Regions from separate parts of the Homo sapiens genome. Here regions 1, 3, 4, 5, 6 and 7 are each linked to region 2. Evidence: fine-mapped expression QTL. A gene starts in region 2. Each other region holds a variant in brackets. All regions are shown on one strand. Distances are from middle to middle.

Region 1 (4,065 bases), 59 kb before region 2:
CCCTGTCTCAGTGATTGGAACTCATTGACCCATTTGATAAGCCAAAATCTGCAGCCTTTTTGTATAGTGTTTTTTGTTTGTTTTTATGGTAAAATACACATAACATAAAATTTACCATTATAGAAGTGTACTGTTCATTGGCATTAAATACATTCATATTGTTGTACAACCATCACTGTCTTTGATCTCGAGAACTCTCTATACTCATTAAACAATAACGCCCCCCATTCACCCTTCCTCCCTGCACTTGCAACCACTGTTCTACTTTCTGTCTTGAAACCATGTGGTATTTGTTTTTGTGACTGGCTTATTTCACTTAGCATAATGTCCTTAAAGTTCATCTGCATCATAGCATATGTTAGAATTTTCTTCCTTTTTAAGCCCAAATAATATTCTGTTCTATGTATTTATTTTTTGAAGCAGGGTCTTGTGCTGTTGCCCGGGCTGGAGTGCAGTGGCACAATTATGTCTCACTGCAGCCTCAACCTCCTGGGCTCAAGTGATCCAGGAGTGTGCCACCACACCCAGCTAATTTAGTTTTTGTAGAGATGGAGTCCTGCTATGTTGCTCAGGCTGATCTTGAACTCCTGGCCTCAAGCAGTCTTCCCACCTTGGCCTCCTAAAGTGCTGGGATTACAGGCATGAGCCACCACATCGAGCCCCATTTTATGTATATACCACATTTTGCTTATCCATTTATTTTTGGTGAACACTTGGGCTGCTTCCATATTCTGGCTATTGTAAATAATGCTGCTGTGAACATGGATGTATAAATATCTCTGAGACCCCACTCTTCTTTCTTTTTGGTATATACCTAATAGTAGAATTGCTGGATCATATATTCTGTTTTTAATATTTTGAGGAAGCACTCTGTTTCCCATTGTACGTTCCCATCAATAATGCACAAGGGTTCAAGTGTCACTACATCCTTGCCAACACTTATTTTCTGGGTTTTGTGTTTTTTGGAGAGTAGCCATCCTAATGCGTGTAAAGTGACATCTCATTGTGGTTTTGATTTGCATTTCCCTAATGATTAGTGATATTGAATATCTTTTCATGTGCTTATTGGCCATATGTATATTTTCTTTGGAGAAATGGCTATTTAAGTTCTTTGCCTATTTTGCATAAGCTTGTTTATTTTGTTGTTGTTGTTGATATGTAGGAATTTTTTATATGTTCTGGATATCAATCCCATCAGATATATGGTTTGCAAATACTTTCTTCTAATCTGTGGATTGTTTTTTTACTCTGTTGATAGTGTCCCTTTTTTCCCTATCAGATTTAGACTTTTTAAAATAGTGGTAAAGAACATATAACATTTACCATCTTAACTATTTTTAAGTGTACAGTTCAGTAATGTTGAGTATGTTCATGATAGTATTCATTGCACAAAAAAATTTTAATCTTGGTTAAGTTAAACTTACCTTTTTTTCTCTTATTGCTGATGCTTTTAATGTCATACTCAAGAAATCATTGCCAAATCCAATGTCATGAAGCTTTTCCCTTATATTTTTCTAAGAGTTTTGTAGCTTTAGCTCTTACGTTTAGGTCTTTGATCCATTTTGAGTTTATTTTTGTATATGGTGTACAGAAAGGGTCCAAAATTTCTTTGCATGTAGATCTCTAGTTTTTAAAACACCATAGGTTGAAAAGACTGTCCTTTTCCCCACTGAATGGTCTTGGCCCCTGTTGAAAATCATTTGACCAAATAAGTGAGGATTTATTCTATCACTGGTCTATATGTCTTTATGTCAGTACCACACTGTTTTGACTACTGTAGCTTTTTAGTAAGCTTTGAAGTTGGGAATTGTGGATCCTCCAGCTTTGTTCTTTTTCAAGATTGTTTGGGCTATTTGGGGTCCTTTGAAAGATTTCATATGAATTTTAAGATAGATTTTTATATTTTTGCAAATTCTGATAGAGATTGCATTTAATCTGTAGATTGCTTTGGATAGTATGGACATTTCAACTGTATTAAATCTTCCAATCCATGAAAATTGGATATCTATTTGTATCTTCTTTAATTTCAGCAACATTTTGTAATTTTCTGTATACATGTCTTTCATCTCCTTGGTTAAGTTTCTTCCTAAGTATTTTTTTCTTTTTGATGCTACTGTGTGAATTGTTTTCTTAATTTTTTTTCTGATTGCTCCTTGCT[A/G]CTGTATAGAAACACAACTGATTTTAGCATGTTCGTTTTGTATTCTGCAACTTTGCTAAATTCACTTACTCGTTCTAACAGGATTTTTTTGTGGACTCTTTAGGGTTTTCTACATAGAAGATCATGCCATCTGTAAACAGAAATAATTTTCTTGCAGATTTAGTTTTTTTTTTCTTTTGAGGCAGAGTCTTGCTGTATCACCCAGGCTGGAGTACAGTCACATGATCGTGGCTCACTGCTGCCTTGACGTCCTGGGCTCAAGCCAGATCTAGATTTTTAACTGTGATTCTATTTGTATGTTCCAAGCATTATTCTTTCTCTTTTAACCTTTTAGAGGTAAATGGTACTTGTTACATTCCTAAAGAGGGTATATGGATATCTCACTTCTGTGGATCTTTGGTTGAGTTCTTTTTGCTGAATATATTGAGTATAATTTGTTATTCCTTTGTTTCTAAAGCTGCTTTGAGATATGTATTTCAGTTCACAAAACCAATTACTGAGGCTCTATCTGCTAGGTATGAGGCTCTTTATGACCTGCTTAGTCAACCTACTACCCAGCCCTCCATTGCCTTTCACTTAGTAGAGGAATGGTCTGATGAACAATGGCAGTAATAATCATTATACATTATTATTTCTTAAAAGTATCTTTGGCCGGGCACGGTGGCTCATGCCTGTAATCCCAGCACTTTGGGAGGCCAAGGCGGGTGGATCACTTGAGATCAGGAGTTTGAGACCAGCCTGGCCAACGTGGCAAAACCCCGTCTCTACTAAAAATACAGAAATTAGCCAGGCGTGGTGGCGAGGGCCTGTAATCCTAGCTACTTGGGAGGCTGAGGCAGGAGAATTGCTTGAACCCAGGAGGCGGAGGGTGCAGTGAGCCGAGATTGCGCCACTGCACTCCAGCCTGGGCGACAGAGTGAGACTCCATCTCAATTAAAAAAAAAAAAAAAAAAAAAGTATCTTTGTGTATATGAACTTCTAACTCATGAGTCCTCTTTGATTAAAAAGTGTTCTAGGGAGTGTAGAAGGGTAAAACTTTCCTCTTGATGCCCACTATTTCTACCAAGATAGCATTTAGCATCGTTGTCTTTTCACCTCATTGTTAATCCCGTCATTACCTTTTATGCCTCATATTTGTTTAGTGCTTACAGTTTATAAAATACATTGCTGTTTTTGTTTCTTTTTATCATTATACAATTCTATGAGATAGCCAGAACAGGAATTATTATCCCACCATTTTACACATGAGTAAAATGGAGCTTCAGAGAAATTGACGTAACTCACCGGAAGTCACACAAATATAAGAGATAATGCTGAAAAAATAACCCATGTCTTCAGATTACTAACAATATTCTTTTCTGTATATCACACTTCAACCATTTATTTAACTCTTCAATTATTCATTTACTGAACAAATATGTATTATCTGCTTCATAGGTATCTAGCATTGTGTTAGGTACTTGACATATCAGGACTCATCAAGTCAGTTTTTGGTGGGTTTTTGTTTTGTTCCCAGCTACCGTTAGCCATCATGTGATGTTATCTATTGATTTGTTTCTGCTCACAACTGTAAATCAAGATTCCAGCCCTCCTGTTTCCTTTTACCCTCTAAATCTTGGATTCCAGCAGGAGGTTGGTTTTCCTTAACAGTAAAATCTTCTGTCTGAGATGGCTTTTTTGGTGTGTGAGTGGCAGATTTGGACACTTGTTTCAGGACTAGTCAGCTCTGGGAGCCAAATATGGAACTGAGTAGATTTGTGAAGGAACATGCCTTTAGCAGTCCATGCTCCTGAGTTGGACAGTGGAGAGTAGGAATGCCTGGCGTGTGGAAGGGCATATATGATAGTAACTCATGTAAGTTCAGTTAATGCATTTCTAACAGTTAAAAAAGTAACTCATGAAATAAA
Region 2 (4,065 bases):
GCTCTGGGTAGGAGAGGGGGTGGCCAGAGAGCAGACCGTTCTTGGGTGGCTCACAGTCCCCTAAAGGCCTCGGGTTAGGGAAGGACTGAAATATTGCTGGACAGAAAAATAGGAAGACTAGATATTGTCACCTCTACTTTTTCAAGGGAAGCAGTAGGACATCAGGGTGAAAGCCAGGCCAGGTTGCCTTTCAGCTCTGTTTCTTCTGAGCTGTGTGGCCTTCAGCAATAGTAACAACAACCACAGTGATCACAGTCAACGTTTATTCGACGCTTGATTTACATTTCGCGTGTCACTACTTCTTTGTTTCTCGGTTTCCTCATCTGTAAACGAGTGGGTGGGGAATTAATCGACTTCTCAGGGCTGTTGTGGGGCTCAAATGGTACCACGGGGGAAAGTTGGGCATGTGCTCGGGTTGTTTGTGAGGCCATAAGGGAGGCCCATATTGTTTGGAGGCTTGGGGGAATCAGGAGGATGTTCATTCCTAATGGAACCAGGTAGTGGGTTGGGGGTGAGGGTGGTGGCTCTCTTCACTGAGAGGTATGGCATGTGAGCAAGCTTCAAAGGGGAGAAAGAGGGATAAGGAGAAGGACCTTTAAGAGGAGGGCATCTGCCAGGTGCAGTGCCTCACATCTGTAATACCAGCACTTTGGGAGGCCAAGGCAGGAGGATTGCTTAAGCCCAGGAGTTCGAGACTAGCCTGGACAACATAAGGAGACCTCATCTCTACACAAAATTTTTAAAAAATTAGCTGGGTGTGGTAGTACACACTGGTGGTCACAGCTACTTGGGAGGCTGAGGTGGGAGGATCACTTGGGTCCAGGAGGTTGAAGCTGCAGTGAGCCATGATTGGGCCACTGTGTTCCAGCCTGGGTGACAGAGTGAGACCCTGTCTCAAAAAAAAAAAAAAAAAAAAAAAAAAAGAGGAGGGCATTGTGTGGGCAAAAGTGCGGAGGAGGAAAAGTATAGGGTGTGTTTGTGGAACAGTCCTGGTGCAATTAATGGCTAAGCCTGGCGCCCAGTGAATCAGCCAAGGATGCAGTCAACCAGCTCTTTGGCCCTGGGGCCAGCTTCGAGGCACAGAGACTTCTTTCCCTAACATTATCTTGTCCAGAGGTGGCTGAGGACAGGGCTAAGGGTGAAGGGAGACTAATTACAGAGCCCTACTTCTGGGTCTCTCACACCTACCCCTGGAAAGCCATCTGTCAGGAATGTGGCCGCCCCTCCCCACCTTCTGACCTCCTTAGCTAGGGACCAGTTTGGGCATCCCTAGGGAGTGATAAGCCACCAAGCAGGGGTGGCTGTAGGGAGTGTGTAGCTCCCAGCAGGCTGTTGGGAGTCAGTGGAGTTTGAAGAACAGATGGAGAGAAGGGAGGATGGGTTTAGAGTGAGAGGCTGGGGTCTTAGAAGAAGCAGTAGGTGGGCATGGTGGCATGCACCTGTAGTCCCAGCTACTCAGGAGCCTGAAGCAGGAGGATCACTTGAGCCCAGGAGGTCGAGGCTGCAGTGAGCTATGTTTGCACCACTGCACTCCAGCCTGGGTGACAGAGCAAGACCCTGTCTCTTAAAAAGGAAGAAGAAAACAGTGACGATGGGGGCTTACATTTGTCAAGCACCTACCATGTGTTGTAACCACCCTGTGAGGTATGTATCCTCACTTTACAGACCGGGAAACTGAGGCTCATAGAGGTGCAGTGACTTGCCGAAGTTTCTTTATCCAGTCATTCAGCATTCAACCTCAGCATCTACGTATTGAGCAGAGGCCCTGCGCCAAGCACTGAGGAGTCAGCGGTGACCACCTCTTGGCTTCTGTTCCCAAGGGTGACAGTGTCCTGGGGTCACACGGGCTCAAACCGAGGTCGATTTCCGAACGCTCACTTTGGAGCAGGATGCGAGCCCGGGCCACGATTGGGTCAGGTTGCGCCGCTCGCGTGGCCGCGGGAATCCCCGACCGGCCCCTTCCCTAGGGTCCCTCCTGGCGCACCTGCCCCAGGTGAGTCTGGGGAGGCCCCGAGCGCCGCCGGAAAGCGTCGAGCGGCTTCGGTAGGTGGGGCGGGGCCGGGGCGGGGCCGGGGCCGGGGAGGGGCCAGGCCCGGCACCCGGATCCCGAGGTCCGCGCCCCGCGCCCGGCGCCGGGCGCCCGAAGCCGGGAGCCGCCGCCATGGGGGCCTGCCTGGGAGCCTGCTCCCTGCTCAGCTGCGTGAGTCCCGACCCCGGCGCCCGCCCGCGCGCGCCGCCCGTTCCTGCTGCGGGCCCTCACTTTCTTCTGTTCTGCTCCGAGTAGTTTCTTCTTTTTCCTTCCTGCAAACTTGTCTTTCTGGGCCGGTGCCCCGCCTGCTCGCCCTCCTGGACCTTCACTCGGCACCCGGATCCCGCTGCCCCCGTCCCCCTGCTCAGTCCTGGCCGGCAGGCGCCGGGCAGCTGCGGTCCCGGCTCGGGTTTCCGCGGGCAGGAGGGGAGTGCCCTCGGCGGGCGCCCTCCTGGGACCTGGAGAGACTAAGCCTGGAGCCCGGGGTCGGGGCAGCTCTGTGGGCCCTCGTCGCCCCACTTGGGGCGGTCCTCGGGGTGGCCTCTGTCCCCGTCCCGGACGCCCTGGTTCTCTGTGTAGGTCGCCCGGGCCCCGTCCCTCCTGGCGAGTGCCCTGCCCTACCCCTCTGGCCGCCTGCCAGTCCGCCTGTTCCTGTCGCTCGGGCTCCGCCTGTCCGTTCGTATTTGTCTGGTTCCTGTCTGTGTCCGTCGTTCGTCCGACTGTCTTTGTCCGTCTGCTGTCTTCTGTCCGTCTGCCCGTCCGCCCGTCCGTCCCTCAGTCTCTCTGCGGTCCCTTTACCGTCCTCAGTCTGGCTCGCGCTGCCTCTCAGGCACTTCCCCAGCTCGCCCCGGATCATCTGGGCCCCAGCGCGGAGACTGGGATGGGAGCGGAGGGAGCCCCGGACTTTCTTAGCTGCCCTCGAGTGAGGCGGGTGCGGGTCGTCACGGACCACCGGGCGGAACTCTGGGTTGGGAGAGCAGGAATCGAGGGAGGTTCGGGTGTGCGCGGGGAGTGCCCGGTCGCGGGTTCGGGACCTGTGGGGAGGCCAACCTCTGTTCTGTAGCTGCAGCCGCAGAGGGGAGGGGCTCCAGCAAGACCCCGGCTGGGAGGCCCGTTCTCCCTTCCCTTTCCCCAGCCCCCCTCTCCTTTCCTCTTCCCCTCATTAAATCTGAGGTTCATTCAGGCAGCCCCCTCCCCCTCTGGCCCCACACAAAGAGGCCCTGAGAGGGAGAAGGGGCTGCAGCGGCTGCTGAATCTCGGGACTCGCTTTCCTTTGTCCCTGACGGGTTGTGTGTGTGTGTGTGTGTGTGTGTGTGTGTGTGAGAGAGAGAGAGAGAGAGAGGAGGGGGTGTAGGGGAGAGCTGAGGGTCTAGAGATTTACTTTACAGCCTTTTTCTGAGAATGAGATCAGCATAGACAGCACAGAGAGGCAAGAGAGCCTCTCGCCTCATTAGGCCTCCATTTTTCGTGTGTGTGTGTGCGTGTGCATGTGCGTGTGCAGGAGGAGGAATCAAGCTGGTGCCTGAAATCCCTCCCAGCCCAAAGAATTCAAGGTTTGGGCCAGGTCTCTGCCAACAAGGGTTTGCTTCCTGGTGAGGGAGGCAGAGCTTCCACAGTGGACCTGATTTCCATCGGTTGCACCTGGTGAGGCACAGGCCCTGCTGGGCTGGCCTGGGGGTGGAGATGTTGAGGGGCAGCCTGCCAGCCCTGTGTGCCTTGGTCACCCCATCTGGCAGTTGACAGTAACAGGGCCTTTCTCACAATGCTGTTGGGAGATGAGGCACAGTTCCTGGCATATCGTGAGTGCTCCTTGTGGGAATTATTGCTAACATCAAGGAAAGGTGGGTGGAGAATTCCATTTGGAGACAATGCAAAGCCAAGTGCTGGTCTCTGAGTTACAGCATTCTACAATGCTGAGAGCAGATAGGACTGCTCAAACCATCTGTTTACAGATGAGAAGACTGCCACCCGCCCGGAGAAGATAGCTGACTTTCCTAAGGTTGCACAGGGAAAGGATGAAGAACTGCATAGTTAGG
Region 3 (4,065 bases), 34 kb before region 2:
GTTCTCTCCTCATCCCTCTGATCTACCTGCATCCTCTTCCTCTGTTATGCTGACTACATTTGGGGAAGAATGTGAGCCCTGTCCCTTTTTGTACTCCTCTGTCTTGCCCTTGGCAGATCCAGATGTGGATATAACATCTGGCAGGCAGCAAGACCAGCGCCTGCCAAGAACAGCATCTCCCCAGCCCTCATCCTATGGTGAGGTCACTGTTCTATGTTTCCACGGCAACCACAGGCTGGGAAGATGGAGAAGAGGAGAGATGAGTAACCAGAAGCCAGCCAATGAGATGAGCTGCAGCACCGGATGATCCATGGGGCCATGGGGAGCGGGGACAAGGGAGGCCTGCTCAGCATGTTCAGCTGTTTCCTGGACCCTCCCTGCCATCTGGATGCCTCCACTAGAGAATGTGCTACTAGCACCAGGAAAGAGCTAGAGGCTGAAGAAGCTGAGTAGAAGCTCTGCTGACCCAAGAACATGGCCCTCCTTTTTTGCCTCTTCAGGGTCTAAGTCTATGGTTGCTGACTACCCCCGCCCCATCCCACCCCTAATATCTGCAACTGGGAACTTTTCCCATTTGCTGGGAATGATGGTGGGGCTCTTTCTGCCTCTGCCTGCCATAGAACCAGCAAGTCTTAGACATCCCTTCTTTTTATGCCCTTGGTCCATGGGGTCTTTGTTACCAGAAAGGGGTCCCAATCCAGACCCCAAGAGAGAGTTCTTGCATCTCACACAAGAAAGAATTCGGGGCAAATCCGCAGAATAAAGTAAAAGCAAGTTTATTAGAGAAGTAAAGAAATGTCTGTTTAGTAAATTATTAACCTGTTCCCTTAACTCTTAACTGTAAACATTTTGTGACTAAGAATGTTTCACCTTGTGGGAATGCATCCCAGCCAGGTCTCAGCTTCATTTTATCCAGCCTCTATTCAAGATGGAGTCACTCTGGTTAGAATGCCTCTGACATCTTCAGATGCAGTGTCTTTGGAAAGAGCCCTGATTCTAAACTCCAGGCCTGCATTTACTAGCTAGAGACCTAGAACAAGCTCCCTTTCCCCCTTCTGAGTCTTGTTTTCTCCCAAATAGAGGAAGGCCATCAACTTCTCAGGGTTGTTAGGACAATTAAAAGAGATAACAAATGGAAAGCCTACCGTGCACTAATATTGAAGGAATAGTAACTCCTTTCTCCTTTCCTCCTTCCAGTTCTTTTCCCCGGGATATTTGAGTAAGCCAAGGCCCTTTGAGACCCTGAATAAGTAGGAAAGGATTCAAGTATATGGCCAACTCCTCTTCATTGAGGTCACAGAGTGGCCTTCAGATCTTGGACATAAGTTTCCTCATATTTCCCTTTCTCTCTCTTTAAATATTCATTCATTCTACCAATCTTAATTGAGCACCTCCTATGGCCAGGCACTGTGCTAGGCTCAGTGAGGATCCAGGGTGAACAGGAGAGCTCCCTGCTCTCACTTAGCTCACAGTGCAGGGGGATTGCAGCTACAGTGGGTGGAGTGTTCTTTCTGCCACTAGGAAATCTGCTTCCTTGTTCCCCAAGAGTTCCAGATACTGTGGGCTGGAGAGAACAAATGATGGCAGAAGGTAGAGGTTTACTCAACACCAATTTGCTTCTAAGAAACTGCTGCCTGTGGCAGAATGCTCCCTGAAATGAGAACAATGACCCTCCCTGCCCTGGGGGACAGGGGGTACCTCAGTGGGGAGGGGCAATCTGCCTTCTCAGAAGCCATCCTCTCCCTGTTGCTGACAGAAGAAAGCCCAGACTGTATAGCCTGGTCTCATCTATTTCCTTGGTCTAATTTGTTGCTGAAATCCTTTTTAAGAAGAGTTTCTGGCGGAGAATAAGGTATA[G/A]TATATTGACAAGATCGGGTGCATTCAGGGTGGTATGGTTGTAGACAGGTACAGTATATTGAATGAATGAACAAATGAGTGAGTGAAGGAGAGAATCTATCTACCTCCCTAGTTTTAGGGGCTCTGGAGTGAGACTTGGGTTCCAGTCTTGCCATATGTATACAACAGCTGTGTGACCTCGGGCAAGTCATGATCTCACTGGGTCTCAGTTTCTAAATCTGCAAAGAGCATTATCACTATTCTCACCTAGCCAGCCTCCCAAGGACTCTGAGAAGCTAGGGGAGGACAAATTGAGGAATGCAGCACAAAGGATGTTTCTCCAACTCCTGGCCTCAAGCGATCCTCCTGCCTCAGCCTCTCCAGTAGCTGGGACAGGCGTACCTGGTTTATGTTTTTTCTCTTCCAGCCTCCTTCCTTGGCTGCCTGTGGTCCTTAGCACAAGACCCACTTTCTTTGACATGACCCCATAGCCACAGCCTAAGCATCACAGCCCACACACTCTAGCCCCTACCTGCCTCTCCCAGCTTTCCACACACACTGCAGCCATTCTGACCTTTTTGTACCTTGAGGGGACACCATGTTTCTCTCTTTATGTTTGCCAGCAGTGCTCTTCCTCACCCCTACAGTCTTTTCTTTTTTAAAAAATCTTTATATATATATATTTTTTTAGACAGTCCAGCTCTGTCACCTAGGCTGGAGTGCAATGGTGCAATCTCGGCTCATTGCAACCTGTGCCTCCCAGGTTCAAGCGATGTTCATGCCTCAGTCCCCTGGGTAGCTGGGATTACAGGCATCTGCCACCACACCTGGCTAATTTTTGTATTTTTAGTAGAGATGGGGTTTCACCATGTTAACCAGGCTGGTCTCCAACTCCTGACCTCAAGTGATCCACCTGCCTCAGCCTCCCAAAGTGCTAGGATTACAGGCATGAACCACCACACCCGGCCAACTCCTACTCATTTTTCAGCTTTCAGCATAACTATCCTGCTTCTGGGTAACACCATCTTCCCTGGCCTTCCCTATCCTGCTTTGATGTTTGTTTCAGAGTCTGTCTTTGCCATTACACCGGAGGCCCTTAGAGGGCTGGGACCCAGTCTGTGTTGCTTCTTGCTGTGCACAGGACCTGGCATGTATTTGTGGAGTGGACAGTCTCTCCAGAGAAAAAGAAAGCCACTTGTTCTTGCAGTGTTCTCTCTGTTTTGAAATTCTGACACCATCACCATCTCCTCCACTACTCTCAACTTTCCTCCTGCCAAAGTATCCTGTTTTGTGTCCTCTTTCTCACTCCATCCCTGAGGGCCAGTAGCCTGGGCCACTTCCTGTGTGTGGTGGGGCCCCAAGTACTCCCAGGTGAGAATTGCCCTTTGGAAAGCATGAGGGTAGCCTGGATCTCAACAGCAGCTTTTTTGGGGGGATGGGGCTATTCCCAGAAAGTGATTAAACCAGGCCCCAGACCTGGGGCTGACCCTGGCTCCCTCCTCAAACTTCAGTTTCCTTTTCTCTCAAATGAAAAAAAGGTTGCCTCTGCAAAACTCTAAATAGCCTCTAATATTGGATTAGGTAAAGTATAATTAGAAAGGTAAACCTTAGGCTTATAAAATGGCACCTCACATCACCATGAGGTCTCAAGCATGTTCATGTGCCATGTGGCCTGGCCTCCATCCCCTCTTCTGGCACCAAACACATGGTCCAGTAGTCATGCCTCATAATGCATTCTATTCAGGAACAGCTTACCCAAGATTGTGGAAGGATTCAAGCAGCTCCCGGAGACCTGACGAGCCTGGTTGGTGTGGACAGATGCCCACTGTTGTCCCTGGGTGAGGAGAGCTGGCAAGCCATGGCAGGGTGGCTGGCAGGGAGTGTGTCTTGGCCTCAGGAGTCTGAGGCCAGATGTGTTCCAGGAAGCAAGTACAAAGCCAACACTGTCAGCCTGGCTTGGGCTGAGATCTTGGGAGTTATCCGGGATGGGTTGATGGGGCAGCAACCCAGGACTCTATAGTAAACAAAGACACTGGATAGGAAAAGGAAGGAGCCCATTTGCAGGAAGGACTGGGTGGGCTGGGGGTGACCAGGACTGGAGCCCAGGGTGAAAGATTTCTCCTTGTAAAGGTTGGCGGTGGGAGGACCATGAGGTTAGAGGGATAGGATCAGAGTCAGGAAAAGATAAAGTCAGATGAAGAAGGCTGTCCTTAGAATGGGATCACCCTG
Region 4 (4,065 bases), 270 kb before region 2:
AGACAGGTGGATCACAAGGTCAGGAGTTCGAGACCAGCCTGGCCAACATGGTGAAACCCCGTTTCTACTAAAAATAGAAAAATTAGTCAGGCATGGTGGTGCCCACTTGTAGTCCCAGCTACCCAGGAGACTGAGGTAGGAGAATCACTTGAACCCAGGAGGCGGAAGTTGCAGTGAGCCGAGATCACACCATTGTACTCCAGCCTGGGCAATAAGAGGGAAACTCCGTCTCAAAATAAAAACCAAAAAAAACAAAAACAAAAAAAAACGGGTTTTTTTGGTCTGGCATGGTGGCTCATGCCTATAATCCCAGAACTTCAGGAGGCTGATCACTTGAGAGGAGGAGTTCAAGACCAGCTTGGGTAACATGGAGAAACCTGGCTTTATAAAAAAACAATAATAGGCCGGGTATGGCAGCTGACACCTTTAATCCCAGCACTTTGGAAGGCCGAGGTGGGTGGATCACTTGAAGCCAGGAGTTCAAAACCAGCCTGGCCAACATGGAGTAACCCTGTCTCTACTAAAAATATAAAAATCAGCCGGGTGTGTTGGTGTACTCCTGTAATCTCAGCTACTTGGGAGGCTGAGGCACGAGAATCGCTTGAACCTGGGAGGGGGAGTTTGCAGTGAGCTGAGATTGTGCCACTGTACTCCAACCTGGATAACAGAGCAAGATCCTGTCTCAAAATAATAATAATAATAATAATAATAATAATAATAATAATAATAAATTAAATTTAAAAAATAAATAAATGTTTAAGGTTTTTATTTAAGACAGGATCTCACTCTGTTGCCCAGGCTGGAGTGCAGTGGCCTCATCATAGCTCACTGTAGCCTTGATCTCCTGGGTTCAAGTTATCCTCCCACCTCATCCTCTCTAGTAGCTGGGACTATAGGCTTGTGCCACTGTTACTGGAAAAGGGTCCTGATCCAGACCGCAAGTGAGGGTTCTTGGATCTCGTGCAAGAAAGAATACGCGGAGAGCCCATAGAATAAAGTGAAAGCAAGTTTATTATTATTATTATTATTATTATTATTATTATTATTATTATTATTTTTTGGAGAAGAAGTCTTGCTCTGTTGCCCAGGCTGGAGTGCCAGTGGCATGATCGCGGCTCACTGCAACCTCTGACTCATGGGTTCAGGTGATTTTCCTGCCTCAGCCTCCGGAGTAGCTGAGACTACAGGCGTGTGCCACCACGCCTGGCTAATTTTTTTTATTTTTAGTAGAGATGGGGTTTCACCGTGTTAGCCAGGACAGTCTTGATCTCTTGACCTCGTGATTCCCCGCCTCGGCCTCCCAAAGTGCTGGGATTACAGGCAGGAGCCACCGCACCCAGCTGAAAGCAAGTTTATTTAAGAAAGTAAAGGAATAAAAAATGGCTACTCCATAGACAAGGCAGCCCTGAGGGTTGATAGATGCCCATTTTTATGGTTTATTTTTATTTCTATATGCTAAGTAATGGGTATAGATCACTCATGCCTCCCCTTTTTAGACCATATCGGGTAACTTCCTGCTGTTGCCATGGCATTTGTAAACTGTCATGGCACTGGTGGGAGTGTAGCAGTGAGGACGACCAGAGGTCATTCTTGTCGCCATCTTGGTTTTCGTGGGATTTAGCCAACTTCTTTACTGCAATCTGTTTTATCAGCAAGGTCTTTATGACCTGTATCTTGTGCCGATCTCCTGTCTCACCCTGTGACTTAACTGTCCGGGAATGCCTTAACTGTCCAGGAATGCAGCCCTGGTCTCTGCCTTATTTTACCCAGCCCCTATTCAAGATGGAGTTGCTCTGGTTCAAATGCTTCTGACACCACCATGCCCAGCTAATTTTTGTATTTTTTGTAGAGACAAGGATTCGCCATGTTGCCCAGACTGGTCTCAAACTCCTAGACTCAATGATCCTCCTGCCTTGGCCTTCCAAAGTGTTGGGATTACAGGCGCAAGCTACCACACCCAGCCAAACTTTTTTTGAGACAGAGTTTCGCTCTTGTTGCCCAAGCGGGAGT[G/C]CAATGGCTCAATCTCAGCTCACCACAACCTCCACCTCCCAGGTTCAAGTGATTCTCTTGCCTCAGCCTCCCAAGTAGCTGAGATTACAGGCATGCGCCCCCTTGCTGGCTAATTTTGTATTTTTAGTAGAGATGGAGTTTCTCCATGTTGGTCAGGCTGGTCTCGAACTCCCAACCTCAGGTGATCCACCTACTTTGGCCTCCCAAAGTGCTAGGATTACAGGCGTGAGCCACCGCGCCCAGCACAAAAGTTCTTTTTAATTAAAAACATGATTTACAGCTGGACTTGGTGGCTTACGCCTGTAATCCCAGCACTTTGGGAGGCCGAGGCAGGCAGATCACAAGGCCAGGAGTTTGAGACCAGCCTGGCCAACATGGGGAAACCCCGTCTCTACTAAAAATACAAAAAAATTAGCCAGGCATGGTGGCACGTGCCTGTAATCCCAGCTACTCAGGAGGTTGAGGCAGGAGAATTGCTTGAACCCAGGAGGCGGAGGTTGCAGTGAGCCGAGATTGCGCCACTGCACTCCAGCCTGGGCAACAGAGCAAGACTCAGTCTCAAAAACAAAACAAAACAAAACAAAACAAAACAAAAAACAAAACAGACAAAGAAACATGATTTAAAAATATAGACAGAGCCGGGTGTGGTGGCTCACGCCTGTAATCCCAGCACTTTGGGAGGCCGAAGTGGGCGGATCACGAGGTCAGATCGAGACCACCCTGGCTAACATGGTGAAACCCCATCTCTACGAGAAAAAAAACACAAAAAAATTAGCCTGGCGGGGTGGCGGGCGCCTGTAGTCCCAGCTACTCAGGAGGCTGAGGCAGGAGAATTGTTTGAACCCGGGAGGCGGAGGTTGCAGTGAGCCAAGATCACACCATTGCACTCTGGCCTGGGAGACAGAGCGAGACTCCATCTAAAAAAAAAAAAACAAAACTATATATCTATCTGTAGATATATAGATAGATAGATAGATATAGACAGAGAGAAGAATCCAGAAGGCCCAAGGGCAAAGGAGAGACAAAAGACAGCATTGCCTCAGAGAGAGGGAGACAGAGAGAAGCTAACAGTTTTCCAGTCCTTCCTTTCATTCACGTAGCAACCATTTATTGAGCCTCTCTTCCTTGCTTGTAACTGTGCAAGTCATTATGTATATGGATGAACAAGACTGAAGAGGGCCTTCCCCTTTTGGCACACACACTCCAGTGGGGGAGAAATAGTGAAACACATAGCTGCATGGATAATGATTTCATTAATTAGAATTTTTTTTTAGGCCGGGCGCGGTGGCTCACATCTTTAATCCCAGCACTTTGGCAGGCCGAGGCAGGTAGATCACCTGACGTCCGGAGTTCAAGACCAACCTGACCAACATGGAGAAACCCTGTCTCTACTAAAAATACAAAATTAGTTGGGTGTGGTGGCACATGCCTGTAATCCCAGCTACTCGGGAGGCTGAAGCAGGGGTATCACCTGAACCCAGGAGGCGGAGGTTGAGGTGAGCCGAGATCGCACCATTGCACTCCAGCCTGGGCAACAAGAGAGAAACAGGATTTTGCTCTGTCATTCAGACTGGAGTGCAGTGGCATGATCTTGGCTCATTACAACCTCTGCCTCCCAGGTTCAAGCTATTCTCTTGCCTCAGCCTCCCATGTAGCTGGGATTACAGGCTTACACAACCACAACCGACTAATTTCCGTATTTTTAGTAGAGACGGGGTTTTGCCGTGTTGACCAGGCTGGTCTTGAACTCCTGGCCTCAAGTGATCTGCCCACCTCAGCCTCCTAATGTGCTGAGATTATAGGGGTGAGCCACCGCGCCCAGCCTATGATTTCGTTTATTAGAATTGTAACTCTAATAGTGCCATTGCCCAATGCATACAGCAAGTCAATATGCCAAGACACCAGGTTGCAGCAGAGAAAGAGGTTTAATCACAAGACTATCAAAGGAGGAGAGGAGAGGAGACCTCACATCGGTCTCCCTGATGAGTTTGGGGCTAGGGTATTTAAAGGTTTTGGAGTGGGCCGAAGTGTACAGATCACTGGTCAAAGAGTGCA
Region 5 (4,065 bases), 120 kb before region 2:
GTGGTGGTGTGTGTCTGTGGTCCCAGCTACTCAGGAGGCTGAGGCAGGAGGATCACTTGAGCCCAGGTGGTGGAGGCTGTACTGAGCCAGTGGTCAACACAGAGAGATTGTCTAAAAACAAAAAAACAAAAAAAGAGAGAGAGAGAAGCAATGTGGGTTCCACAGTATGTGGTACTGCAATTTAAAATAGGGTGGTCAGGAAAATCCTCACTGAAAAAATTACATTTGGGCAAATATTCGCAGGAGCTGAATAGTAAACCATGTAAACATTTGTGAAGAGCAATCCCACAGAGAGGACAGCAAATGCAAAGGTCCTGAAGCAGAGGCTTGGAAGAGAGAGTAACTGAAGCCAGGTGAGCAATAAGAAATTGGTCAGAGAGGTAAAGGGAAAGAGGGCAAATAATTACAAGAATTTTGGTTTTTACTCTGGATGAAGTACAAAGCCACCAGAAAGTTTTCTGCAGAGTGTAATGTGATCTGATGTTTAGAAGGATTCCTTTGGTTATTGGCTTGGTAACAGGTGCTGATACAAAGGTAGAAAGTGGAAGACCAGTTAGGGTCCCACTACAAAAATGCCAGATGAGATAATAATGGCTTAGGCCATGAGGCAATGATGGAGATGGTAGAAGTAGCAATTCTAGACCTATTTTGAGGACGGTGCCAGCAGGATTTATTGAGGAGATGTGAGGACACTCGTATTTCCTCGTCTGAGCCTAAACAGGACATTAGAAGTGTGATCACTATTTCTATCTTACAAAAAATGTAGTTAGGAGCATGGTTTCTCAGTTCGAAATCTGCTTCTATCACGTACTTGGTAAGTCTGTTTTTCCATCTGCAAAATGGGTTAATAACGTTCCTAACAGGCTGCTACCAAGATCAATGGAAATTTCATATACGAAACACTTTAGTACAAGAGTCAATGAATGTTAGCTGCTATTTAGTTGTTAATAATACTAGTGCAGAGAAATAAAGGGAAAAGCAACTTGCCCAAAGTCCCAAAACGAGCCAACACAAATCATTTCCCTTTTTTCTTCCCTCCCTCATTCATTCATTCTACACACTCTTCGGAATTTTTGTTCTATGCCAGATCCATGTTAGAGTCAGGATGCTTAAACCCGGGTCAGGGTTTTGAGCCCAAGGTCCTCAACTCTAATTCTAATGCTATCTCAGGGCAGTCGAGAGGCTGAAAACGGGCGCCAAACGGGGGAACACGTACGCAGCATTCGCAGGCTATGGGGAGCTTTTACAGTGTTTATGTGCTTTAACTCTGCGTAGAAACTCTCGTTCTGCCCCCGCAATGCGGGAAAGGGTCAGGGATCACCAGATACAGCGCTCTGAGGGGAGGAAGATGAGCTGAGGGCCAAAGGCCGCCTGCTTCTTCACTTACCGCTTGCAGCAAGGCTCCCGGCGTCGCCTGCTGCTGCCCGGCTCCTGGGCCAGACCCCGCTCCCAACAGCAACTCATGCCGCTGCCGCTTGACTGGAACCAGCGGCAACTCTGGGCCCTTACGCTTCTGCTGTTCTATCATGGCGGCAACCGGTCTCTTCAGCGCCGCCACTGACCGCGCTGCCGCTCTCAGGCGCCACGCAATTGGTTCCAAATTAGTCCTTCCTCCACAACTTCCAGCTTGGAAGAACCAATCGGCTTTCAATATTTCCATTTGCACCGCCCTCGGA[T/C]AGTCTCTTGTTATTGGGCATATCTTTCTGACGTCATGAGAGTGCGATACCAGGATTGGTGGACGGAGCTGGCGACCGCCCTAGGCGCGCTGGGTCTTGTGGGTGGAAACGCGCTGGCTGACTGGGGTCGGCGTTTAGTTCAGCGCAGCGACTCGGGGACCTGGAGCTGACGCCTAGTACGTATGAGGAAGAACGGGGTGGGTGGCTGCCTGAGTCTGGAGGCGACGCCTCGGTTGTGCAGTCTGAACCTGCCCTTCTCAGCTGAGGGTGCTGACAGCAAGGGGTGGGAGGCGGGCCCCGAGTCCCCAGCTGTGGTAAGTAGTAGCCTGGGCTCCCTTTCGGGGCAGGAGCGGAGCCTTGGGGTCTCTGGCGGCAAGACCCAGCCCCTGCGGCTCCCTTCTTCAAGAGCGCCCATCGTGGCCAGTCCTGTGCCGGGCATTCCCAGGGAGAAAGGCCTGCGTCCCAGCCTCCTCCGGTGCCCCATTTGGCCGAGGAGGCTGACTTGTTTCTGCCACTGATTTTGCAGTTTTTGATCAGGGCCTACTGTATGCCCCCCTGAGAGAGACAGTGATGAAGGAAATGTCCGACTCCTTCTCCAGAGCACAGTCTTGTTGAGAAATTTGAGACTCATGCCCATGAACGTGGTCATTGCCTCAGTCGTCCTGCTGATATTCATTTAGCAGCGCGTTGGGGGTATGTTGTGAACCGGGCACGGTCCCTACTCTCAGGGCGTTTAACTCTGGTGGGGAAAACGTTAAACAATGACCTCACTAATACATGGAAATGCCTCCTACTGCTGCCTGATGCTATGAGTGCCTGAAATAAGCAGGAAGGTTTTTCAGAGGAAAAGATGCCTGCGCTGGTAGCTGCAGGAAGTGTTGTAATTAATTAGGTGAAGAAGTGAAGGCAGAACCTTCCATAGAGAACTACTTGTTCAGAGCCCTGAGGCACTTGGGAGGAAAATGACTAAAAGCACAAAGAGCCAGTGTGGCTGGTACAAAGAGAATGAAGGGAGTATGGTACAAGATGAAGCTGTACGTGATAGCGGTCAGACCTTGCAGGAATTTGTAGCTTTTATTTTAAAACGGATGAGATACCACTGAGCCGTCTTCCCCCAGTGGGGTGTGGTGGAGGAGGGGACTTGATCCCTCAGGCTCAGTGGTGTGAACAGACGGGGGTTGGGGAAGCCCTAGTCGATGTATGTGGACCACTTGGGATATGCAGTAATCCTGGTCAGAGATGTCAGTGAGGACTGAGATATGGGTGGAACTGCAGAGAATTGGACAGATTCTAGAGGTATATAGGAGGTAAAATGGGTGGGACTTGGTGATGGGTTGATTTTAGGGAGTGAAGAGAGGAATCAAAGGTAACTCCTAGGTTTCTGGCTTATGTAGTTGAATAGATGGTGGTACCATTCACTCACTATCACGGAATCCCTCAAGCTGGATAGGGAACACTAGAAGATGATTAGAGACCAGTTTTTTTTTGTTTTTTTTTTTTTTTTGAGACAGGTTCTTGCTCTGTCGCCCAGGCTGGAGTGTGGTGGTGCAACCTTGGCTCACTGCAACCTCCACCTCCCAGGTTCAAGCAATTCTCCTGCCTTAGCCTCCCCAGTAGCTGGGATTACAGGCGCCTCCACTGTGCCCGGCCAATTTTTGTATTTTTGGTGGAGATGGGGTTCCACCATATTGGCCAGGCTGGTCTCCAACTCCTGGCCTCAAGTGATCCACCTGCCTCAGCCTCCCAAAATTCTGGGATTACAGGCCTGAGCCACTGCTCCCAGCTGAGATCAGTTTTTATTGATTGATTGATTGATTGTGTGGGGTCATTCATGACATCCAAGAGGCAGTTTGAAATACAGCTTTGTGCTCAGAAGAGAGATTTGTGTTGGGAATATAAAATTGGGCATAATTTGTATATACATGAATTGAGCCATAGGTGTGGGTAAGGTCAGCTAAGTCAGAACCTTGACTAGTTCCAACATTTAATGGTGAAGAACAGGTGAACCTACAGGAGATACAGAAGAAAGGAAGGAGGACTGGAAGAATGTCTCAGAAGCAAAAGAATGATTTGTGATAGAAATTTCTAGAATTTAAATAACATGAAGATTGAAAAACATATTTTGGCTTTTATCATCATGGAGGTCACAGTAACCTTAGCAAGAGTTATTTTGTTGGTGTGATTGGGCCAAAAGCCAGATATGAGGCAAGGATTTGGACAAGAAAATGTAGGTAGTGAACCTACACAGTATTTTTCATAGATCTGATTGTAAAGAGGAGGAGAGGATGTGCTAACCGATGGGGATAAGGGATTATCCAGGATCCAGTTGAGGATCCAGTTTTGAGAAATTTGAGAATATTGTAGAAGATTTGAAAGTCACTGTGGAGTG
Region 6 (4,065 bases), 500 kb before region 2:
GGGAATAAACTGCTCATTTAGAATCATTTTCCTGGAACCAAAAATATGCCTCCCTAAAAATATATTTTCTTTCTCACCTCATTCTGAGGCTGCAGCAGCTCAGCTGCCTCTAGGAGGTGGGTGGGGGAGAGTGACCGGGGCCTGTGGGGGGAGATCCCCCTTTCCCCAGGGCTGTGGATACTGACCACTGGGTCCCCCTCTCTGAGCACAGCTGTCATTGAGATATGCAGTACATCACATTTGTGTGTGTGTTTGGTTTTTTGGATTTTCGAGACTGTTGGACCCACATTCAAACTTCAACCTAGAGGTATCGAGCCCCAGCGAGGGCTGGGCACAGATCTGGACACTGAGGGAGCTCCCACCAAGGATGGGAGGCAGGCAACAGGCAAGCAACTGCACCAGGGGACACCTTAGTGCTGCCCTCGCCTCCTGTGTGCCTCTGAGCAGGTGCTTCTCCCACCCTGGGCCTCAGTCTCGTCATCTGCGAAGGGATCAGATGCGGGTAGCCACCCTGAATTCTCTGCGGACAGTCCTGCCGCTGGCCATGGTGGAGGGGAAGAGCAGCTGCCCTGGCAGCACTGACTCCAAAGAGAGGCCTGGGGCACTCGGGGCTCAAATTCTGGGTCTGCCACTTCCAGGCCAGTGGCCAGGGCCATTTTCCTCCCATGCAAGTTAGGGTCAGTGACGGCTCACAAGGCTGGAGGGAGGCAAACAAAGCAACACAGGACAGCACCCAGCATAGGGCAAGGCCCACAGTCACATGGAGCAGACCACTGTGTTTTTGTTGTTGTTATTTTTAGAGACAGGGTCTCACTCTGTTGTCCAGGCTGAAGTGCAGTGGCACAATCACAGCTCACTGCAGCCTCTATCTCCTGGGATCGAGAGATCCTCCTGCCTCAGCCTCTGGAGTAGCTGGAACTATGGTGGGCCACCACACCCAACCCTATGCCACTAATTTTTTTTTTTTTTTTTTTTTAGACAGAATCTCATTCTGTCACCCAGGCTGGAGTACAGTGGCGTGATCTCGGCTCACTGCAAGCTCCGCCTCCTGGGTTCACGCCATTCTCCTACCTCAGCCCCCTGAGTAGCTGGGACTACAGGCGCCTGCCACCACGCCTGGCTAATTTTTTTGTATTGTTAGTAGAGACGGGGTTTCACCATGTGTTAGCCAGGAAGGTCTCGATCTCCCGACCTCGTGATCCGCCCGCCTCGGCCTCCCAACGTGCTGGGATTACAGGCATGAGCCACCATGCCCAGCCCCTAGGCCACTACTTTTAAGTCATTCTTTGTCTGGTTCACCCCAGACCTGAGGTGGGAGGGCGAGGATACCCCACCCTTCCCCCACGGGAACTGAGAGAGTCTGAGGTTCCACAGGGAGGGGGCAGGTGGCTGCCAGGACCCTGGAACAGGTTGGCTTCGGCCCCTGGAGTTGTTGGTCCAGCCCTGCCCAAGGACATGTTCCCATGCTGGTATCTAGGAGCACCAGGAAGTGTAATCCAATTATACACTTTAAGTTATTTTTAAAAGTATGATTAAATTATTATTATGTTAATTTTAATTTTTATTTATTTATTTATTTGTTTTTTTAAACGGAGTCTCTCTCTGTTGCCCAGGCTGGAGTGCAGTGGCGTGATCTCTGCTCACTGCAAGCTCCACCTCCTGGGTTCACGCCATTCTCCTGCCTCAGCCTCCTGAGTAGCTGGGACTACAGGTGCCCACCACCACACCTGGCTAATTTTTTTTTTTTTTTGTATTTTTAGTAGAGATGGGGTTTCACCGTGTTAGCCAGGCTGGTCTCAGTCTCCTGACCTGGTGATCCACCCGCCTTAGCCTCCCAAAGTGCTGGGATTACAGTCTTGAGCCACCGCACCCGGCCGATTAAATTATTGTTGACTAGGCCAGGTACAGTGCCTCACGTCTGTAATCCCAGCACTTTGGGAGGCCGAGGTGGGCAGATCACTTGAGCCCAGGAG[T/C]TCAAGACCAGCCTGGACAACACAGTGAAACTCCTTCTCTACTGAAAATACAAAAAGTAGCCGGAGGTAGTGGTGTGTGCCTGTAATCCCAGCTACACGGGGGGCTGAGGCAGGAGAATAGCTTGAACCTGGGAGGCGGAGGTTGCAGTGAGCCAAGATCGTGCCACTGTACTCCAGCCTGGGCAACAGAGTGAGACTCTGTCTCAAAAAAAAAAAAAAAAAAAAAAAAAAAAGGACCGGGTGTGGTGGCTCATGCCTGTAATCCTAGCACTTTGGGAGGCTGAGGTGGGTGGATCACAAGGTCAGGAGTTCAAGACCAGCCTGGCCAAGATGGTGAAACCCCATCTCTACTAAAAATATAAAAATTAGCCAGGCATGGTGACAGGTGCCTGTAATCCCAGCTACTCGGGAGGCTGAGGCAGAGAATTGCTTGAACCCAAGAGGCAGAGGTTGTAGTGAGCCGAGGTCGGGCCACTGCACTCCAGCCTGGGTGAGACTCTGTCTCCAAAAAAAAAAAAAAAGGTTATTATTGACTATAGTCACCCTTTTGTACTATCAAATACTAGGTCTTATCATCCTTTCTTTTTTGTTGCACCCATTAACTGTCGTCCCCACCTCCTCTCCTCTACCCCCTCACTAGCCTTCCCAGCATCTGGTAACCAACCTTCTGTTCTCTATCTTCCTGAGTTTAATTGTTTTGATTGTTAGATCCCACAGATAAGTTTAAAGTGCTTCTTTGAGTGAAAAGCAATTCATGAACTGGGAAACACCAAACCAGAAGAGGTTTAATGTTCCAGTGACAAATCATCAGAGGCAAGTATTTAAGGGATAAACGCAGAAGTAAAATAAATTATTTGATTGGTTGCAATTATATAGTTGTTTATTTGGTCTATGCCGTTAGAAAGTCCCCCGTTATATAAAAATTTGTGGACTACTTCTGACTGGTTGAGCTGAAGTTCTGTTTTTCTTTAATAGAGGCATTTACAAGAAATAGCTCAATTTTTGCTTATGTTTGCAAATCAAGCAAGGTTGAGGTCATGTATGAGGCCTAACTGGTTTTGTCTGCTCTGGGATTCTTCAGACCTGGTCTCCATTTTAATTTAACAAGTGAAAGGGTTATAGGGCTGGGCACAATGGCTGACGCCTGTAATCCCAGCACTTTGGGAGGCCGAGGCGGGTGGATCAACTGATATCAGGAGTTCAAGACCAGCCTGGTCAAAATGATGAAACCTTGTCTCTACTAAAAACACAAAAAATTAGCCGGGTATGGTGGCGCGTGCCTGTAATTTCATCTACTCAGGAAGCTGAGGGAGGAGAATCGCTTTAACCCGGAAGGCAGAGGTTACAGTGAGCCAAGATCATACCATTGCACTCCAGCCTGGGCAACAGAGGAGACTCCATCTTCTTTTTTTTTTTTTTTTTTTTTGAGACGGAGTCTCACTCTGTCACCCAGGCTAGAGTACAGTGGTGTGATCTCGGCTCACTGCAACCTCTGCCTCCTAGGTTCAAGCAATTCTCCTGCCTCAGCCTCCCAAGTAGCTGGGATTACAGGCGCCCACTACTGCGCCAGGCTAATTTTTGTATTTTTAGAAAAGATGGGGTTTCACCATCTCGGCCAGGCTGGTCTCGAACTCCTGACCTCGTGATCCCAAAGGCCTCGGCCTCCCAGAGTGCTGAGATTACAGGTGTGAGCCAACACGCCCAGCCTCAGGAGACTCCATCCTGAAAAATAAATAAAGTATTACAGGACTATGGTTCCTCTGCCCACTGCACAGTAACAGACCCCATTACATGGAGACAGCAGGGTTTGCAGAAGCAGAAAGAGTTTACTGATCACAGGGCACCAAGCGAGGAGATCCTCAAATCCATCCCTCCGAGGAGTTCTGGGCTGGGATTTCTAAGGGGATTGTTGAGGGTGAGGGGCTAGAAAACTTGGGTCATTGATGGTTTTGAGTAAGGGGGATGACATCATCAGGACATGGAAACTGCATTTTTTGGTGAGTCAGCTCTTCAAACCAGTCAGGTCCTTCAAACCAGCTGAGTCAGCAGTTTCCTCAGTATGCAGGACCTGAAGGAATAGCTCAAAGAGAGA
Region 7 (4,065 bases), 89 kb before region 2:
CTGGGATTAAAGGTGTGAGCCACCACACCTGCCTTTTCCCTTTTAAAAATAGGGTTATTTTTGTTTTTATTGTTGAGTTAGGTGTTTCTCATATATTCTGGATACTAGTCTCATATCAAATATATGATTTGCAAAGATTTTTATGTAACATACTTGAAATGACAAAGTTATTTAAATGGAGAACAAATTATTTAATGGTTCACAAGGATTAAGAAGGGGAAGGAAGTAGCAATATGAAGGATCCTTGTGGTGAGGGACCTGTTCTGTATCTTAACTGTGGCAGTGTATACATGAATCTACACATGTGGTAAAATTACGTGGAACTAAATACATACACATACAGAAACACAAATGAGTACAGGTAAAACTGGGGAAATCTGAACAAGAGCCAGTCGATTTTATCTGAGATGTTTTTCCCTACACCAACCAATTCTCCAGTTCTCTGATTCTCTAACATCAACTGGATGTCCCAACAATTCAATTCAATTCTGACACTAACTACCTGGGAATTAGTGTCAGATTCCACAAACTTAAGGGCTCAGTCCCACATGACTACCCTCACTTCAGATGCCAGCCCCAATATTGAATCCTCAGATTACCTACACTTTTGTCTCACTTGGCTACAATTTTTGGGATTCCCAGCACTTCCCCCCAAAGTTGGTAATTTGCTAGAGTGACTCACAGAACTCAGAAAAATGCTATAGTTACTATTAGTTTATTTTAAAGGATAAAAATGAGCAGTCAGATGAAGAAGTACACAGGGTGAGACCCAAAGTGTTCCGAGTACAAAGCCTCTGTCCCCATGGAGTTGGGGTGTGTCACCCTCTTGGCACATGGATGTGTTCACCAACTCTCCAAACTCCATTGCTTAGGGGTTTATATGGAGGATCTGTTATATAGACATGGTTGATTAAATTATTGGCCTTCAGTGATAGAGCTCAGTCTCCAGCCCCTCTCCCCTTCCCGGAAGTCAGAGGGTAGGGCTGAAATTTCTTTTTTTTTTTTTTGAGAGGGAATCTAGCTCTGTTGCCCAGGCTGGAGTACAGTGGTGCAATATCAGCTCACCGCAACCTCTGCCTTCCGGGTTCAAGCGTTTCTCCTGCCTCAGCCTCCTGAGTAGCTGGGACTACAGGTGTGCACCACCATGCCTGGCTAATTTTTGTATTTTTGGTAGAGACGGGGTTTCACTATGTTGGCTAGGATGGTCTCAAACTCCTTTCCTTGTGACCTGCCCGTCTTGGCCTCCCAAAGTGCTGGGATTACAGGTGTGAGCCACCATGCCCAGCCCAGGCTGAAATTTCTAACCCTATCTAATCACATCGTTGATTTCTCTGTTTCTGAAGCTATCTAGGGACCCACAGTAGTCACCTCATTAAGGGACTTAATGAATAACAAAAGACACTTCTATCACTCAGAATAGTCCAAGCGTTTTAGGAACTCTGCCAGGAACTAGGGACAAAGATCGAATATGTATTTCTTATACCACAGTATCAATGCCAGCATCCTGGTTGTGTTAGTGTACTATAGTTTTCCAAAATGTCACCATTGGAGAAAACTGGATAAAGTGTACATAAAACCTCTGTATTCTTTCTTTCTTTTTTTTTTTTGAGACGGAGTCTTGCTCTGTTGCCCAGGCTGGAGTGCAGTGGCACAATCTCGGCTTACTGCAAGCTCCACCTCCTGGGTTCACGCCATTCTCCTGTCTCAGCCTCCCAAGTAGCTGGGACTACAGGCACCCGCCACCATGCCTGGCTAATTTTTTGTATTTTTAGTA[G/C]AGTCAGGGTTTCACCGTGTTAGCCAGGATGGTCTCGATCTCCTGACCTCATGATCTGCCTGCCTCGGCCTCCCAAAGTGCTGGGATTCCAGGCGTGAGCCACCGAGCCCGGCCTAGACCTCTGTATTATTTCTTTTGAGTGCAGATGAATGTACAATTATCTCAAAAATTTTTTTTCACATAGGGCAGCAAAGTTATCAAATATTTTTAAAAAATGATTTAAAACACTCCTAAAATCTTTGAGATTAATAAATATTTTAAAAGATTGCTGTTAATACCCAGTGTTAGAAATGGATACTTTTACTCTCTATCAGGAGCATAATTTCACAGACTTTGGCAATGCCTATTAACATCTTTTATGTGCTTATTACCCTTTAATCCAGAAATTCTTTGAAGAATTTAGTGTAAGTAGAGAATTACATAAATTATGTGCATCTGTTTTGTAGACTATGCAGATGATTGAAAGAATGACTGTATTTCTAAGACATAATTATGCCTCATCTTACCAGAAAGATGCCATGGAAGGTTTTCATACAATTCCATCACACTGCTACCTGACTGATAACAGTTGTAAAACATCATTGATTATGAGAAGCACTCCAATTTCAGAGAGATTAAAGTGAGAGGAAAAGAAAGTGCATCTTAGAATCAATGAAACACAATAAATGTCAGTTTACTGACATGAGCCAGGAGTGGTGGCATGCACCTGTAATTCCAGCTACTTGGGAGGCTGAAGTAGTAAGATCACTTGAGGCCAAGAGTTCGGGGCCAGGCTGGGCAACATAGCAAGACCCCACTGATGGCGATGGAGGCCTGTCTAGAGTGGCTGCTGCAAAGATGCCAGCCATAGTGGGGGCTGTGCGGCCAGGGCTGCATGTTCTATGGAGCTGGCAGGAGCCCTGCCCCCTTATGAGTTAGTGGGGTGGGAGCCCACCCTCATGGGTGCAGCTGCCGCCACCCAGCCCTGGCTGCAGACCCAGGCATCCCTGCACTCTTGGAGGTCCGGGAAGACCCCTTTCCCCCATAGTCTCAGAAGTGCCTGCTCCCACTGCCTGGACTCTCCAAGCTCCCGGCTCCTGCTCTGATTTTGGAGCAAAGTCGAAGCTGAGCCTGGGCACTATTGCAACCTGGCTGGGTTTGCACACCTTGGGGTGGTGCTGCCATGCCAGCTTCCTACCATCTTGGCCCCCTCTGGACTTTGGGTGCCAGTGAGCACAGGAGGGAGGCCAAAGGGGTGCTGAGGGTGGCTCAGCATGGGCCTGCAGGTGCCCCTGGGCACAGAACAACTGGGCGTCATGGACAACATGATTGATGGTGACAAGAGGCAGACAGGCTCCTGGGTGGAAAGGGGCAGGTCTCGGTGAAGCCGCACCTTCAAGCCAGGGATGGCCTAAAGCATAGGGGCCAGGCTGTCAGTTCCAGGTGGAGTCTGTGGCCCAGAGTGAGAACTTAAGGTGCTTTTCCTGGGCCTGCCCATGGACCAGTCAGCACACACTTCTGAAGACTGTAAAAATCCTGGACTCAGCCAGACTTGGGCAGACACTGGGAGGACTTGCCTGTGGAAATGGGTTACCCACACTGGGTCTCCTCTCCGTCAAGGGCTGCAGATGTTGGGATGACCTGCCTGCAGATAAGAGCTGCCCATTCTGGGTCTCCTCTCTGCTAAGAGCTGCACTCAACAGGTTGACCTGCCTGTGGAAAGGAGCTACCTACTTTGGGTCTCCTGAGAGCTGTACCATCACTCAATAAAGCAACTCTTTGCCTTGCTTACCCTCCAGTTGTCTGCTTACCTCATTCTTCCTGGATGCAAGACAAGAACTTGGGACCCGTTGAATGGCGGGACTGAAAGAGCTGTAACAGATCCAAGGGCTCCCTGAGCCAGAGCTGTGACACCTCTTTGGGGCTTTATGGTTCCTGGCCTCTCCAAGCTTCTGGGCACCACCATGTTCCCCAGAGTCCACAGTGGAAGCCGCTTGTGGTATGCCTGGTCCATCCACAGCCTCACATGGAGCTGGTGCCTGTGCCAGCACCTGGAGCTGCCTGCCCAGCCACAGCAGCCAGTGTGCCTGGCTGTGCACAGTGGCTGGACCCCATGCTCACTCACTCATGCATCCCTCGCCACTCCGAGCCTGGCTCGCCCTTGGCAGGTGTGGGATCTGGGACGGCAGCATGAGCCAAGCGCAGCCCATTAGACCAAGTGGATGGAACAGGCCTAGTGGCCCCAAGCAAAGCTGAATGCAGCCTGCCAGGCCAAGTGGGCAGAACGAGCCCAGCAGGTCCAAGCAAAACTC

The links.
Region 1: its variant is fine-mapped to the expression of SERINC2 in whole blood (TOPMed, PIP above 0.99).
Region 3: its variant is fine-mapped to the expression of SERINC2 in cerebellum (GTEx, PIP above 0.99). The same link has a PIP of 0.9 or more in cerebellar hemisphere and nucleus accumbens.
Region 4: its variant is fine-mapped to the expression of SERINC2 in whole blood (INTERVAL, PIP above 0.99).
Region 5: its variant is fine-mapped to the expression of SERINC2 in whole blood (INTERVAL, PIP above 0.99).
Region 6: its variant is fine-mapped to the expression of SERINC2 in whole blood (TOPMed, PIP above 0.99).
Region 7: its variant is fine-mapped to the expression of SERINC2 in whole blood (TOPMed, PIP above 0.99).

What each region holds. Positions count from the first base shown.
Region 1 is chr1:31,352,086-31,356,150 of GRCh38, forward strand. The region is part of intron 7 of ZCCHC17 (zinc finger CCHC-type containing 17); the gene reads left to right. Among named protein-coding and RNA genes, the nearest start is that of FABP3, 19 kb to the right of the region's middle. RefSeq lists silencers at 817-1,111, 2,804-2,971. The variant A/G (reference allele first, on the strand shown) is at 2,159.
Region 2 is chr1:31,411,105-31,415,169 of GRCh38, forward strand. It overlaps SERINC2 (serine incorporator 2), which reads left to right and starts at 2,109. Exons shown (of 10, transcript NM_178865.5): 1 at 2,109-2,200. The coding sequence starts at 2,162. RefSeq lists enhancers at 1,857-2,357, 3,628-4,065 and silencers at 1,924-1,993, 2,074-2,133.
Region 3 is chr1:31,376,696-31,380,760 of GRCh38, forward strand. LOC124903892 (a long non-coding RNA gene) reads left to right here. Exons shown (of 2, transcript XR_007065573.1): 2 at 117-792. Among named protein-coding and RNA genes, the nearest start is that of FABP3, 5.7 kb to the left of the region's middle. RefSeq lists a silencer at 107-401. The variant G/A (reference allele first, on the strand shown) is at 1,858.
Region 4 is chr1:31,137,338-31,141,402 of GRCh38, forward strand. No RefSeq gene overlaps it. Among named protein-coding and RNA genes, the nearest start is that of PUM1, 74 kb to the left of the region's middle. The variant G/C (reference allele first, on the strand shown) is at 2,011.
Region 5 is chr1:31,295,224-31,299,288 of GRCh38, forward strand. SNRNP40 (small nuclear ribonucleoprotein U5 subunit 40) reads right to left here and starts at 1,565. Exons shown (of 10, transcript NM_004814.3): 1 at 1,388-1,565. The coding sequence starts at 1,528. ZCCHC17 (zinc finger CCHC-type containing 17) reads left to right here and starts at 1,809. Exons shown (of 8, transcript NM_016505.4): 1 at 1,809-1,852. RefSeq lists an enhancer at 1,334-1,543. The variant T/C (reference allele first, on the strand shown) is at 1,677.
Region 6 is chr1:30,915,191-30,919,255 of GRCh38, forward strand. It overlaps the pseudogene RN7SL371P. Among named protein-coding and RNA genes, the nearest start is that of SDC3, 8.5 kb to the left of the region's middle. The variant T/C (reference allele first, on the strand shown) is at 1,974.
Region 7 is chr1:31,321,733-31,325,797 of GRCh38, forward strand. All of the region lies in intron 3 of ZCCHC17 (zinc finger CCHC-type containing 17), which reads left to right. Among named protein-coding and RNA genes, the nearest start is that of ZCCHC17, 27 kb to the left of the region's middle. The variant G/C (reference allele first, on the strand shown) is at 1,775.